Regions from separate parts of the Homo sapiens genome. Here region 2 is linked to region 1. A link means that fine-mapping ties the variant in region 1 to the expression of a gene that starts in the linked region. Tissue or cell type: whole blood. Region 1 holds a variant in brackets; the other region holds the start of a gene. All regions are shown on one strand. Distances are from middle to middle.

Evidence for each region. PIP is the estimated chance that this variant, and not a neighbour inherited with it, causes the effect.
Region 2: SCML1 starts here. The variant in region 1 is fine-mapped to the expression of SCML1 in whole blood (TOPMed, PIP 0.91).

What each region holds. Positions count from the first base shown.
Region 1 is chrX:17,764,807-17,772,992 of GRCh38, reverse strand. It overlaps the pseudogene FAM136GP. Among named protein-coding and RNA genes, the nearest start is that of SCML1, 31 kb to the right of the region's middle. The variant C/A (reference allele first, on the strand shown) is at 4,185.
Region 2 is chrX:17,732,734-17,740,919 of GRCh38, reverse strand. SCML1 (Scm polycomb group protein like 1) reads right to left here and starts at 3,427. Exons shown (of 8, transcript NM_001037540.3): 1 at 3,240-3,427. NHS (NHS actin remodeling regulator) reads right to left here. Exons shown (of 9, transcript NM_001291867.2): 9 at 4,926-8,186.

The DNA of each region.
Region 1 (8,186 bases):
TGTCAGAAAGACCATAAGAGCTGGGCAGAAGCAGATTATGTGTGTGTATGAGTGTCAGGAGGACAGCAAGGGATGGCAAGATACAGGTCATGTGTGGTATGAATGTCAGAAAACCAGAGAGAGATAGGCAGAGGCAGATCATGTGTGGTATGGATGTCAGGAAGACAGGAAGAGATGGGCAAAACATCATGTGGGCATATGAATGTCAGAAAGAAGGTAAGAGATGGGCAGAGGCACATCCTGTGTGAATATGAATGTCAGGAAGACAATAAGACATGGGCAGAGGCAGATCATGTGTGGTATGAAAGTCAGAAAGAGACTAAGAGATGGGCAGAGCAGATCGTGTGTGTGTATGAATGTAAAAAAAGACAGGAAGAGATGGGCAGGGGCATGTCATGTGTAGCATGAATGTCAGAAAGAAAGTAAGACACCGCCACAGGCAGACCATGTGTGATATGAATTTCAGGAAGACAGTAAGCGATGGGCAGGGGCAGATCTTGTGTGGTTATGAATGTCAGGAAGACAATAAAACATGGGCAGAGGCAGATCGTGTGTGAGTATTAGTGTCAAAAAGACAGTGACAGATGGGTACAGGCAGATCATGTGTGGCATGAGTGTCAGGAAGACAGTAAGAAATGGGCAGAGGCAGATCATGTGTGGGTATGAAAGTCGGGAAGACAATAAGAGGTGGGCACAGGAAGATCATGTGTGGTATGAATGTCAGGAAGACAGGAAGCGATGGGCAGAGCAGATAATGAGTGGGTATGAATCTCAGGAAAACAGTAAGACATGGAGAGTGGCAAATCATCTTTGGATGTGAATGTCAGGAAGACAGTAAGGCATGGACAGAGACAGATCATGTGTGAGTATGAGTCTCACAAAACCGGTTAGAGATGGGCAGAGGCAGGTCATGTGTGGTATGAATGTCAGGATGACAGTAACAGATGGGCAGAGGCAGATCAATGTGGTATCAATGTCAGGGAGCAAGTAAGTGGTGGGTAGAGCAGATCATGTGTGGTTATGAATGTCAATTATGCAGAAAGGCATTGGCAGAGGTAGATCATGTGTTGGTGTGAATGTCAAAAAGACAGTAAGATATGGGCAGAGGCAGATCAGGTGTGGTATGAATGTCAGGACGACAGTAAAAGATAAGCCTAGCACGTCACGTGTGGTGTGAATGTCAGGAAGATAGTAAGAAGTGGAGAGGCAGATCACCTTTGGTATGAAGGTCAGGATGACAGTAAGAGTAGGACAAGACATATCATGTGTGGCTGTGAATGTCAGGAAAACAGAGATGGGCAGAGGCGGGTCACATGTAGGAATGAATATCAGAAGGGCAGTAAGAGATGGGTAGAGGCAGATAATGTGTGGCTATGAACGTCAGGACAGTAAGAGATAAGCAGACGTAGATCAGGTGTAGATGGGCAGAGGCAGATAATGTGTGGCTATGAACATCAGGACAGTAAGAGATAAGCAGAGGTAGATCAGGTGTGGCAAGAGCCTCAGGAAGACAGTAAAAGATATGCCTGGCACATTATGTGTGATATGAATGATAACAGTAAAAGATGAGCAGAGGCAGATAAAGTGTGAGTATGAATGTCAGGAAGACAGAGATGGTCAGAGGCAGATAATGTGTATTATGAATGTCAGGAAGACATAAGAGATGGGCAAAGGCAGATCACGTGTGAGTATGAAAGAAACAAACAAGAATGGAATGGGCATAGCCCCTTCTTGTGTAGGTAGGAATCTTAGGAAGACAGTAGGAAATCAGCAGTGCCAGGCAATAAGTGGGTGTGCGTTTCAGGAAGACAGAATTTGTAGCGAAGAACCAGATCTTTTGTGGGAATGGGTCACAGGAAGACAAAGTGAAGACAAGTGAAAAATCGTATCAGAGAATGGAACAGAGAAAGTATGAAAAAGATGGAGATAGCCAAGTAATAGATGGGTATGGATGACAGGAAAACTGAAAAACATGGGTAGGGAGAGATTATGTGTGCATATGACACAGTATGACTGACACTTATGAACATAGCCAGATCCTGTGTGGAAATGAGTCTCAGGAAGACAAAAAATGCACAGAGTCATATCATGTGTGTGTATAAATGTCAAAAAGACAACAAGATATGGGCAGAGGAAGATCATGTATGGGTATGACTGTCAGGAAGACAGTAAAACATGGGCAGGGGCAGATCATGTGTGGGTATGAATGTTTAGGAATATAGTAAGAGACTGGAAAATGCAGATTATTTGTAAATATGAATGTCAGAAAGACAGTCAGAAATAAACAGAGGCAGAGCATCTGTGGGTATGAATTCCAGGAAGACAGTAAGAGATGAGCAGAGTCAGATCATGTGTGAGTATGAACTTCAGAAAGACAGCAAAGATAGAGGCAAATCATGTGCGGGGAGGAATGTCAAGCAGACAGTAAAAGATGGGGAAAGGCAGATCATATGCGAGGATATATGTCAGGAAGACTGGAAGAGATGGGCAAAATTGATCATGTGCAAGTACGAATGTCATGAACACAGTAAGAGATGGGCAGAGGCAGATCATGTGTGTGTATGAATGTCAGGAAGAAAGAGATGGGCAGAGACAGGTATGTTGGGTATCAATGTCAGGATGCCAGCAAGAGATGGGCAGAGGCAGATCATGTGTGGGTATGAGTGACACGAAGACAGTAAGAGATGGGCAGATGGGCAAAACATCATGTGTGCATATGAATGTCAGAAAGAAGGTAAGAGATGGGCAGAGGCAGATCATGTTTGGGTGTGAATTCCAGGGAGATAGTGGGAGATGGGCAGAATCATATAATGTGTGAGTATGACTATGAGGGAGTCAGTAAGCAATGGAAAGAGGCAGGTCGTGTGTGGGTATGAATGTCAGAAAGACAGTAAAAGTGTCCCTTCATGTATGAGTATGGACCTCAGGAAGAATGAATGTGATGAGCAGAGCCAGATCATGTGTGGGTATGGAACACAGGAAAGTATTAACTGATAGGAAATCACAGATCACGTGTGTGGGGGAGGCATAGAAAACAGACAGAGGTGATCAGAGGCAGATCATGTGTGGGTGTGAGGCTCAGGAAGACAGGAAGAGGTGACAAGATACAGATCATCAGTGGGTGTGAGGCTCAGGAAGGCCCAGGCAAATGGGCAGAACCAGGTCATATGTGGGTATGAGGCTCAGAAAGACAGAAGGAGACGGGCAGAGTCAGATCATGTGTGGGTATGGAGCACAGGAATCCAGTAACTGATGATAGGAAATGGCAGAATATGTGTGGATATGGTACACAGACAGACAGAAAGAGATTAGCAGACCTAGATCATGTGTGCTATGAATGTGAGGAAGGCAGTAAGAGATGGGTAGAGTAGATCATGTGTGGGTATGGATCACTGAAAGTGACTAACTGAAGGACAATTACAGAACATATGGGATTTGGAACACAGAAATAAAGAAAGAGATGAGCATACCCAGGTCATGTGTCAGCAGAGACCTCAGGAAGACAGAAGGAGATGGGCAGAGGCAGATCATGTGTGGGCATGGAACACAGGAAGATAGTAAGAAATAGGGGGGCAGTGCAGACTCGTCGTAGTGGAGGTGCAGCAGCTGCAGGTGCAGGAGGTGGACTCCATGGTGAAGAGTCTGGAGAGATAGACCATCCGGAAGCTGCAGGGCCTCATGTTCTGGTGCAGCACCAGCTGTTGTGCACATGCAGCAGGTGCACCGGTGCATTGAGTGCTGGCATGCGCCTCTGGCTCAAGCCCAAGCCTTGGGGACCAGCTAGCTGGAGAAGTTCCAGGACTGCCTGACCGGGTGTACCATGCATTGCAATGACAAAGCCAAAGATTCAACAGATGCAGGGAGGAAGGAGCTGCAGGTGAAGCAGCCACTGGAAGATTGTGTGACCAAGGGTGTGGATGGCCACACGCACCTCATCCAGACCATGAGCAAGGCAAGGAAGGTGTCTCTCTTATCCACTGGGAAATAAAAGTCTTTGCCAGTGGCCATGGGGGCTGAGTGCAAAAATATATTTTTAAAAGGAATGGGAAGTTTAATCTTTTAAGCCAAGTTCATGAATGAAGAAATTAAGGATGGCACCAAGTGTAAGGCATATGCCACTTGCCTCTGGAAACTGGTTCAATCCTAAAAAGTGAAATGGAAAAAAACGGTGCTAAAATTTGGGT[C/A]AGAGATATTACAGGAAAATATTTTCAAGTCGATATTTTCTGTGGCCAGGGCTCGTCCTGGCAGTAGGGATCTCCCTTGTCACAAGCCAGACCCCTCTGCAGGACCAAATTCTTCTTCCTCCACAGGGCCCACCAGGCTGGTAGGGCAGATTCGGTGGAGTTTGAGGAGAGCTGTTTCTGTTCGTTGCCAACCTCCTGTTTCCCAGAGGCATCACCACACCATTTTCCAGAAGCTGGGCAACAAAATCCATGAGGACACTAACTTGGAAGAGGAAAAGAGTTTTCAGGGTCTTTGTTTCCTTGGTTTTTAAAATTATTTACTCAAGGGCATAAAGTTGATTTTAAGATGTGCAATTGGGAGGGAGAGTAGTTTAGATAAGAAGTTTGAAAGGTTCCTTGTGGATACCCTCTTCTGGCCATCAAGGTGTGGATGTGCACTTCTTAAAATTCTTACACACTGCATCTTTCAGCCTGGGGACCACACAAAAACATGAGCAGTGACATCACACTAATTATGGGAAACAGAGCTTCCCTCTTATTGGCCGATGGGCCCTGAGGCTGTCTGCTGAAGAATGACAGGACGATCTTCCCCTCACATTTTCCCCTGGAAGAAAAGGAGGTTTTGGTTGTGATGTATACCAGTATCCAGGAATGAGCAGGAAAGAAGGAGTTGCTGGCTACTTGGTTGATTATAAGAGAGTTGTGAAGTAGTGGATTTGGAAAAACCTGGTTTTCATAGAACAGAATGCAATGAAAGCCTAAATCCAGCATTGCTTACATAGCCCCTGAATGAACAGAGCCCAATTGAGACAAACCCCTGACCACAGGAAGTTCAAGGAAGAGAAAGTAAGCAACTTGGGCTAAGATAAGCTGTAGCAAAGGAGGGGCAGTCCCCGATTACCAAAGACCATTTTTGCCTGGGGCCTTTGCAACACACAGTGTTCATGCCCTAGCATGGCACCTGATTGTTTTGATAGCAACTTCATTGCAGTTTTACCAGGTTATTTCTTGAAATGATAATATAGCCTGTCTGTTCACTGTTTCCAGGCAGTGATATATTTTCCTAGTTGTTTGGTTTTTAAAATAAATAAGGTTTAATTTCTCCCCTTCCCCACAAAAAAGAAATGGGCAGATAAAACAATGTGTGGGTATGGATCACAGGAAGACAAAAACTGATGAGCACAGGCAGATCATGTGTGGATATGAATATTAGGAAGACAAAGAGATAGGCAGAGATAGATCATATGTGGGTATAGAGGACAGGAAAACAGTAACTGGTAGGAAATGACAGATCATATGTGAGTATCCCACACAGAAAGATAGTAAGAGATGTGCAGAGGCAGATCATGTGTGGGTATAGATCACAGGAAGACAGTAAGAGATGAACAGAGCCAGATCATATGTAGCTATGAATCTCAGGAATACAGTAGGAGATGAGCAGAGTGAGATCATGTGTGGCATGAATCACAGGAAAACAAAAAGGGATGGACAGAGCCATATCATGTGCCGGTATGGATCTAAGGAAGACAGCAATAGTTGGAATGGACAGACCACATGTGGGTATGGATCTCAGCAAAAAAAAAAAAAGAAAGAGATGAACAGAGCCAAATCATGTTTTTGCATGAATATCACAAAGACAGAAAGAGATGGGCAGTGCCAGATCATGTGTGTATGGATCGGGGGACAGTGAGTGAAGGGCAATGACAGATCATGTATCACGGGAAAACAGTACATGACAAGCAATGACAGATCATGCACGTGTATGGAACACAGAAAGAAAGAGTTGGGAAGAACCAGATCATTTCTGGGTATGTATCCAGGAACACAGGAAAAGACGGGCAGAGACACATAGTGGGTTTGTCTGAATCACAGGAAGACAAAAGGGGATGGGCAGAGCCAGATCATGTGTGCATGTGGATCTCAGGGAGACAGCAAGAGATGGCCAGAGCCACATCATTTGTGGGTGTGAATCTTAGAAAGACAAAGAGGTGGCCAGAGCCAGATCCTATGTGGGTGTGATCCTCAGGAATACAGTAAGACATGGGCAGCACAAAACCATGTGTGGGTGTTGGTCTCAGGAAGACAGAAGGGAAGGATGGAGCCAGATTATATGTGGGTATAGTTCTCAGGAGCACAGAAAGAGATGGGCACAGCCAGATCATGTGTGGTTTTGGAGCACAGGATCACAGTAACGGAGAGGAAATGACAGATCTTGTGTAGATATGGAATACAGAAAGACAGAAAGAAAGAGATGGGCAGAGCCAGATCGTGTCTTGCTGTGAATCTCAGGAAGACAGTAGGAGATGGACAGAGCCAGATCCTGTATGGGTACGGGGAACAGGAAGACAGAAAGTGAAGGGCAATGACAGATCCTGTGTGGGTATGCAACACAGGAAGAAAGAAAGATCTGCATGTCCAGATCACGTGCAGGCATGGATCACAGGAAGCCAGAAACAGAGCTGAGCAGGGCTATGTGTTGATGTGGATCACATTTAGAAGGGGAACAGTAGGAACAGACCTTATGTGGGTACAGAAAACAGGAAGCAAGAGAGAAAGTAGCAGAGATCAAATCATGTGTGGGAAAGATGGAAATAGAAGAGCAGAGACACAGTAGTGCCTGGGTATGGATCATATTAAGAAAAAAAGAGATGGGCAAGGATTACACCATGTGTTGGTGTGGACCACAGGAAGACCGAAATGCATGTGTAAGCTGAGACCAAATCATATGCATGGATAGATCACATTTAGACCAAAAGAGATGGGTAGGGATAAATTCACGATTGGGTGTGGATTGCACTAAGACAAAAATCGCGGTCAGAGATAATATATAGATTTGTATCACAGGAAAACAGAAAGAGATGGGCAGAGCCAGATCATATGTGAGTAGGAATCATGGTTAGACAGAAATAGATGGGCAGGGCCAGATTATGTGTGGGTATGGTTCGCTAGAAAAAGAAAGAAATGGGCAGGGATAGACCAGACTGTGTGTGTGGATGGATCGCAGCAGGAAAGAAATGTGTGGGGCAAGGCCCAGGTCACATGTGGGATGATAGATAGAAAAACAGGAAGTGCCAGGCAGGGAGCAGTACATGGGTGGGCATATATTAGTGTAAGACAGTAAGATGGGCTGGGATTATGCCATATGTAGGTGTGGATCACAGAAAGACGGAAAGAGATGAGCAGATCGAGACCATGTGTGGATATGGAACACAGCAAGGCAGAAGGAGGAGTGTAGGCCAGATCATGTGTGGGTGTGGAACACAATAAGAAAGAAAGGAATCGGCAGGGATAGATCAGATCATGGGTGTGTATGGATCACTCTTAGACAGAAAGAGATGGGAAAGTATGATATCGTGTGAGGCATGGGCACAGGAAGGCATAAGGACTGGGCTGGGCATGTGGCCATGTTGGCACAAGACTTTCCAGAGGCCAGGAGTGGCCAAGTGGGGATGTGGATGTGACAGCAGGAGTTATGGCAACCATGTCAGCCCACGAGATGGAAGCCACATGCTGAGGAAAAGAAAACAACAAGATGGTAGGGGCATGGATCCCTGATGTGGGAGCACCTTCAGACCGCCAATGTGAAGAGAAAAGAGAAATCAGTTTCTACCATTGGGAAGCTCTGGGGGCTCAGGCTGTCTCTATTGAAGTACCCAAATGCCATCCTAACTACTGCAATAAGAACTAAAGGACGCAGGAGGTGGCCATTTCACCACTCCTTGCTTTCTATTCCTCCCCACCCCTGCTCCTCCAGGGGAGTTTTAGTGCCCAAGGACATTGAGGAAGTGGGAGGGCAAATACAGATGGCTGGGGCTCAGGCAGGTGTCCCTAGGAATGATTTGGGGGTGCACAGGCAGTAGCAGATGCCAAACCCACACTCATGACTCCTCCCTGAGGGTACTGTTGACACAGGCGGGACTGGAGAGGGGTAGAGTGGTAAAAAAGAGGATGGAAAAAGACTCAGGGATGATGAACAGGAGATGGCTGTGGCTTGGAGGTGGA
Region 2 (8,186 bases), 32 kb after region 1:
CTGGACTCCCAACATGTTTACATCTCTGGTACATATACAAATCAACACCAATCTTTCACTCTTTGAGCTTCTCGCTCCTGTTATGCCCTCCGTCCATAATACCCTGTTGTGTCTCCGCCTAGGAGAATCTATTCAACTTCAAGGCTTACTTCAAGTTTCACCTCCAAAAAGCAAGGGCACCATGCCAATGATCATCCCATGTGGATGTGACACGGCTTTCCCTGAACTACAATAACACTCACACTTTAATACTTCTACGGCAACTGTCACACATATCTGGTTACATGAGAGGCAGCATCAAACAGCATTAAGACCTTAGGCTTGTGGTCAGAATACCTGGGTTTGGGTCCCACCTCCCCCACATACTAGCTGTGTAAGTAAGTTGAACAACTTACTTAAATCCTTTTTTTTTTTTGTCTGTAAAATGGGAATGATAATAGCACATACCTCACGGAATCGTGAGGATTAAATTAATACATGTCAAGTGCTTAGAGTAATGCATGGCAAAGATAGCAAGGGCTTTTGAGTATTGACCGCATCTATCCAACAGAACTATTTCTCAAGGAGCACATAGACAACAAGCCTGGGTCATAACGTCATTTTCATTCACATTGCACCTGAAGTGAGTTTTTATGTCTTTTAGGTACCAGGGTATGATGCAAGGAGCTGGGCTTTAGTTATAAACACTTGAATCCAAGTCCAAATTGCCAAATTTGCCGTTTCACTTTAGGCAAATATTTCACCTCTCTGTGCCTCAAATTTTCTAACCTGTAAAGTTGGAATAATATCTACTTCACAGGGCTATTTAGGCCAAAAATTACACAGTTAAACTCTCAGCATCATGCCTGGTTCATAGTAGACACACCATAAATTTTAATTCCTTTTCACTTCTTCCCATAAGGCAAACAATTACAGCTTTACAACATTGCCTTAGAGCCCAACCATGACTAGAATGTGCAAAATTAATTTCATTTTTAAATCTCAAATCCCACAAAATGAGTTTACTTAAAATGAAACTCATTTATATTTACCACAGAAATCTAAATTTCTTTTTTTTTTTTTTTTTTTTTTGAGACAGAGTCTTACTCTGTCACCCAGGCTGGAGTGCAGTGGCATGATCTCGGCTTACTGCAACCTCTGCCTCCCGGGTTAAAGCAATTCTCCTCCCTCAGCCTCCCGAGTAGTTAGCGTAACAGGCTTGCACCACCATGCCCAGTTAATTTTTGTACTTTTAGTAAAGACTGGGTTTCACCATGTTGGCCAGGCTGGTCCCGAACTTCTGACCTCAAGTGATCTGCCCACCTCGGCCTCCCAAAGTGCTGGGATTACAGGTGTGAGCCACCGCGCCTGGCCAATTCTTGATAACACCATAAATTTAAGTTCCTTTTCACTTTTTCCCACAAGATAAATTACAGCTTTACAACATTTTCTCAGAGCCCAACCATGACTAGATTCTACAAAATTAATTTCACTTTTAAACCTCAAATTCCACAAAAATGAGTTTAAAGGAAACTCATTTATATTTACCCCGGAAATCTAAACTCTTGATAATACCACACATTTTAGTTTCTTCTCACTTCTTCCCACAAGATAAATAATTTCAGCTTTACAACATTTTCTCAGAGCCCAACCATGACTACACTGTGCAAAATGAATTAATTTCACTTTTAAATCTCAAATCCCGTAAAAATGAGTTTACTTAAAATGAAACTCACTTGCATTTACCACAGAAATTTAAACTCTTAATTACACCATATACCTTAATTCCTTTTCACTTCTTTCCATAAGATAAATCACAACTTTACAACATTTTCTGAGCCCAACCATGACTAGATTGTGCGAAATTAATTAATTTCACTTTTAAATCTCAAATCCCATAAAAATGAGTTTACTTAAAATGAAACTCACTTGTATTTACCACAGAAATTTAAACTATTCATTACACCATACACTTTAGTTCCTTTTCACTTCGTCCCACAAGATTAATTACAGCTTTACAACATTTTCTCAGAGCCCAAGGCTAGATTGTGCAAAATTAATTAATTTCACTTTCAAATCTCAAATCTCGTAAAATGAGTTTACTTAAAATGAAACTCACTTATATTTACCACAGAAATCTAAACTCTTGATAACATAAGAACAAGAGGCCGTCTGATTTTCTAAAAGACTTTTTTTAGACATTAAAGACATTTTCAAAAGTCGTAAATATTCGCTCCGGAGGCGCAAGGCTTTCACCTGCCATTAATTCATCAGATAAGGCACAGCTCACAATGAGGCGCCACTCCCACCGGGACCACTTTGAGGAACACACAGCAAAACGCTCTGTTTGTTTTAAGAACAATCACTTTCTAAACCTTCCTGCGGGACTCTCAAAGGCAGCCCTTCCTTTGCCGCCAGAACCGCATCCCATCGCCCAGCACTTGCCGCAGGCCGGACAAGTGAGGCCCAAAAGGGCACCCAGCCCACGCCCCGCTTTAGAAAACACCGCGCGGCAAAGCTGCTTGGAAAATCGCTATCTTTTAGTCAACCTGAAGCCAGTTTGCCGCACTCGGGGAGAGCCGGGGAGAGGAGGGAGGGACGCGATCCGCCACCAACCAAATCAGGGCCTTTCCTGTTAACGACCACGCGGCAAGGGGGCCGGGCCCTCGCACGCCTCGACGGCCTCCCCCACTCCAAAGGGACTCCGATTTCGCAGGATCTCCCGCCTCCCGCCTCTGCTCCCAACACCCTACGTTTTTCTCTTCCTCCTCATTTACGTATTTACAATAAAACAGCGAAGCTGCACAGTCTGTCTCTAAATCAAACGCGGTTACCATCAAAGCCTCAGACTCTATGTCTCAACCGCAAAAGGTCTGACAGGAAATCAACTCGGGAGTTTGTCAATTCTTTAAACTCAAAGCTCTGTTAACGAAATCTGGATCCTTCCTCGCTCCCCACCTGCCTCCCCTGACAGGAGAATGACTGTAAAAGGATCCTGTCGTCCCCGAAAGTCAGCACCAAGCACTTCACAAATTGTCAAATCTCAAAAGCTTACACGCGCGGGCACTCCGGAAAGGCTGTGGGGACCACCCAAAGCACCCCCCTCCACACCGCGGCTGAAATTGGAGGCTGCGAAGTCAAGACTCGCTCTTCCCCGCAAAGCAAACCCTCTCTCCTCAGGAGAGCCCCGGCCCCTAAGCCAAATCGTGTATTCCCGTGACGGAAAGTTCAAGGTGAGGAAAAAGTACGACTGGACAGACCTATTTTAGTGACAGAGCCTGTCACGCCGGCCTCCGGAGGTCGCGGTAAAACTGCTCGCAGTAGTCCTGCCTCTCCGATGGGCGACAGCTGTGACCGTTAGGCCACTCGACGCTTCGGAAAGGTCCTGGCACCGGAAACCGGGCCTGGTCACGCGCACGCGAGACCAGTGATGCCCTGACCCCTGAGTGGATCAGAGAGCTCCCGCGACGCCGAATTCCCACACTCGCGGTTGGGGGGGGGGGGGGGGGGGGGGGGGGCGGGACTACCCGCTGACCAATCGGAGTCTGGCCACTGACAGGCGTCACCGTTGATCGGCCAATCCGCGGGTGCTCTCCCAGTCCTTGGGTGAGGGCGGGAATTTGCTAAGGAGATGGCTGTGGGGCGGGGCCGAGGGCGGGAATTTGCTGAGGAGATAGCTGTGGGGCGGGGCCGAGGGCGGGAATTTGCTGAGGAGATGGCTGTGGGGCGGGGCCTCTTACCTCAGGTTTTCCTTCGCAAGACCCGCAGGATTGAAAATGGACGTTAGGCCTTTCAGAGACTCGCGCGCTGAGTGGTTTCTGCGGCTGCGCAGGAGGCTGGCGCGCATGCGCAACCCTTCTAGTGGCGTTGTAGTTAGGGACGTGGTGTCCCCCCTTCGTTGTTGGGGTGTCCGAAGCTTTTTTTTTTTTTTAATGTGATCCCGCCCCTCCCCCGCGCTCTGTGACGCACCAGAGACGTCGTCGTAAACTGGGTTTCCTGGACGCACGCCAGTGATTGACTTGGAATGAGGAGAGGGGCGGGGCCTTAGCAGTTGCCCTGAGCCAGGTCTGGTAGGAAGGGCGAGGGGGGCCAGGGTGGGGGGCGGGCAAGATATTTCCAGTCTCCAGCACCCACAAGTTGGACTGGGGAACTAACGCAGACCTTGAAGGCAGATTTACTGGATTGGACCCCCAGCTCCAACACAGTCCTCCTATGGCCTTAGGCAAGCCAAGTAACCGCTTTGTGCTTCGGTTTCCCCATCTGTAAAATGGGTATAATATGGGGACTACATGAGTTAATGTATGCAAAGCACTTAGAACAGTACCTGGCATAGAATTTTGCTATTGTAATAAAGGCTATGTGACATCATCTAGTGGCATATAGTCTTACATACTTATATCGAGGCTGCTCATCTTGGGAAGGAGACACAGTCTGAGTAATTATCAGAAGCAAAGCAGGCAGATATTTCAAAGTAAAGCTATACATCTTTTCTTGGCCCAGAGAGGAGCTACAAAGAAAGTATACTGGACGTTGGAAATGTATCATTTTTCCTCTCAAATACGAAGCTAGATTAAAGCCCATTATAGATATAGTATATGTTTTTTTTTTGTTTTTGTTTTTGTTTGAGACGGAGTTTTGCTCTTGTTGCCCAGGCTGGAGTGTAGCGGTGTGATCTCGGCTCACTGCAACCTCTGCCTCCTGGGTTCAAGCGATTCTCCTGCCTCAGCCTCCAGAGTAGCTGGGATTACAGGCGTCTGCCACCATGCCCAGCTAATTTTTGTATTTTTAGTAGAGACGGGTTTCACCATGTTGGACAGGCTGGTCTATGTTCTTTTTGCTCCTACTTTTGCCATAACAGACCCTGCCCTTATGTCCTGTTGCCTGTAAAACACTGTTGCGAAGCCCCAAGAAATCAATTACGTAACAGTGAAGAGAGAAACCGGTTGTTTAATTGCAGTCACGTTTATTTGCAGTTTCTATACACACTTTCTAGGTAATCAAACTTTTCTGATACATTTTTTTTGAGAGGGGTTCACAATGAAACTGTCACCATTTTTACTAAAAATAAATACAAGACTTAAAGTGTTGCACAGCTCTAAAATATACAAAGGCTTGGATTGAATGTAAACGTTGAAAACATCTTACAAAAGAAACCATCTTTGCAGCAATTTAAAAAGTTCATATTTACAAATATTACAAAAATACAAAATGGATGCAAGTCCATAAACCATTGTCGTTTCGGCCAGCATGAACTGGTTCTAGTACCAAAATAGTTACACTGTAACCTTCTTCATAGTTTTAAATCTTTATTACCATCTAGTTCTCTACGTGCCACCACTGCAGCAAATGCACTCACTCACTGACCTTTGGCAAGAGCAAACAGCATGTTCTGTTTGCTACAACTAGTCCATGTCCTCTACTTAGCCAAAAACAAATCAAAACAACAACAAAACCAAAGTAGAATTTTTAAAAAATGAAAAAATTTCCCCTACACAACATAGATACGTTGTATAAACATAAAAGAACAAAAAATCGCATCAGTGCAAACAACAGAAGAAAAGTTCGGATTGATGTTCTTCACAATACCTAACGTGTGTACCCTGCTTCAAGACGGCAGTGATGTTAAAGACAGCCCTAAATCTTGGTCTTGTTTGCTATGTAATCAAGCCATGTAGAATATTCCAGATTATTAGGGAACTTCCTGCTTTTTCTTCTCAGTTTGTAACTCAATACTCTTTTCCACAGTGAATTTTAAATCCATCTTTATTTGGGTTTTTTAAATCTATGAAATATAAAATAGAGAAACTCTGCTATAGATTTTTAGAGTAAACAAAATAAGTAAAACTATATTATAAGGGTTAGTTCTGTGATCATTACATATAGAAGGTATCTTATTGCCTCACAATTCAAGTCAATATGTATTTTAAAAAATATATGGTACCATTACTTAATGTCAATAATAAAAAGGTGACATTTTTATTAAAGCCAATTCATGTGTTTTCTATTCAAGATTTAGAATCACTTTTAAAGCCCACATACCTTTCTTCACACTTAAAAAACCCCTAACTACACAAAAGCCATACTGCAAACGAACTGCTTTTATGAAATTACGAAAGATCGCCTACTGTGACTGGAAATGACGGTTTCTTATCGCATTTGCCTAAAAACTTTATTTTTAAAACTTTGCAAGGTGTACTTTTCAAATCATGAGACAGATTTATTCATGTTCCCATGTGGTGTCAAACCATGCTGGTTTTCTTAATTAATGGGTTCCAATGAGAAATGGTGGTCCATTTTATTCAAACCCCAAAATATTTTTCTTTTAAGAAAAAGTGTGACATTTTGTAAATGTTCAAACCCTTTACCAGGTAGCTTATCTATCCCCAGTGTGTGTGCGTACACACACACTCACACTCACACACACCCATACACACTCTCTCTGACTCTCCCTCCTCTTATACCCCTCCACCCCCAGCACCCATTTTACATACAAGGATGACAAGAAATTTAGTAACACAGTTTGGTAGTGAAAACAAATAGTAGAAGAAGCCAGACATTTTTTTTCTTTCCAAACAAACAAAACAACAGCAATCAGATTATCTATTCTTAATCTGTAGCAGTTTAGAAATCATTTCTATTGAAAGACAGTATCTTCTTAGACCAGGCTTCCTCCTTCATTTTGCATGAATTAATCCAAAATGCAAACCCTCTTCCACACCTCCTACTTTCCCAACTACCACTTGCATAAGCTTAAAGCCAGCAGCTTGTCAATTTCTTGGTAACATTGGTATGTTCTATCACTCTAATCACATTCTAGTCTTTTATAAGTCAGATCCCTTCTTAATTCTCTCTCTGTTCTACCTCTCCCATTCAAAACCTATTCTAAGTACATAGCTGCTTATATTTCTGACATAAGATTCCAAACATTAGTATAAGTTCATGTTAAAATCAGAGGTGTAAAAACCATTTGCAGATTTTAACGTGTAACTACATTTTTTTTTCAGTTTTAAGACAAGAAAATTCAAGTAATTTCAAGTAATTCAGCTTGTTTCCCTGCCTTTATTTTATCAGAGCACATGCCCTGACATTTCCTCTCCCACCCTCCACCCTCCCCTTTTGCCATCAAGCAGACACTATAGTAAAACCAGACAAAAACTCAGTTGTATGTAGTATTGTGAACCAGAGCTGTTCCCCATTCCCAGTTTAACAATGAGTATAAATAATGCATATACACATACCTATTTTCCAACTACATTGTTCACAGTGTCATTTCTGTTAATTTTTAGGTAGCATGAATCTCATCAGCACAGAGAGAAAGCTTCACTGAAAACTCATTACAGGTACTTACTGATTAATCAATAGCTCTGTGGCATGCTTAGGTTTTATTTTTGTTAGTTTAAGAACCTGGAGCTAATTTCTAAACTGTTTAAGGAGTTTAATGATTACAGTCATTAGTTATGACCGTTTATGTCCCCAGTAGCCTAATATAAAACATAACCTAAAATTAACTACTATTTTCCCTACTCATTCTCTTTAAAGCAATCCATTGAAAAAATTAAAATCTAAAGGACACTGTCAAATGCTGTTGTTCAGGGCTTTGTGTTGAGAATGATGACTTCTCTCACTGATTAAAAAAAAAATCAAAAGCATGCTTTTCATTCTGTCCAAATTACCACACAACAAATCACAGCCATGGGTTGCTATTAGTTTGTTTGGTGCTGCAATTTGTCATAAAAATGATTAGATCTGAATTCATTATTTTAATTTATTCATATTTCAGTATATGACCTCAAGATTTCCTTTAGTTCACCAGTTTAAAATTCATATTTGAGGTTTACCACTCAGAAATCATATTGGTGGACATTTAAATATGGCATTTGATATGAAAATGGTATTCACAGAATACAGTTATTACATTTTATTTTTGTGTATTCTATAAACAGTTGGTGTGCAGTAGATAATTGACCACATGTCCACTCATCATTGATAAATCTATTTACACATTTTTATCAAAAATATGGTATTTACATATGTGTAGTTCTTTCTTCTAAATTTTGCTTTAGTTTGTTTTAATGTAAAAAAATACCAAACATCCAGAGTAATTTCATCTTCTTAAAGAATAATGACAGTGAGGGCTTTAGTTTCTGAATAGGCAGCTCTGGGAAAACGTTTTCTAGGTGTCATGAAAATTAGACAATTTTGTATCC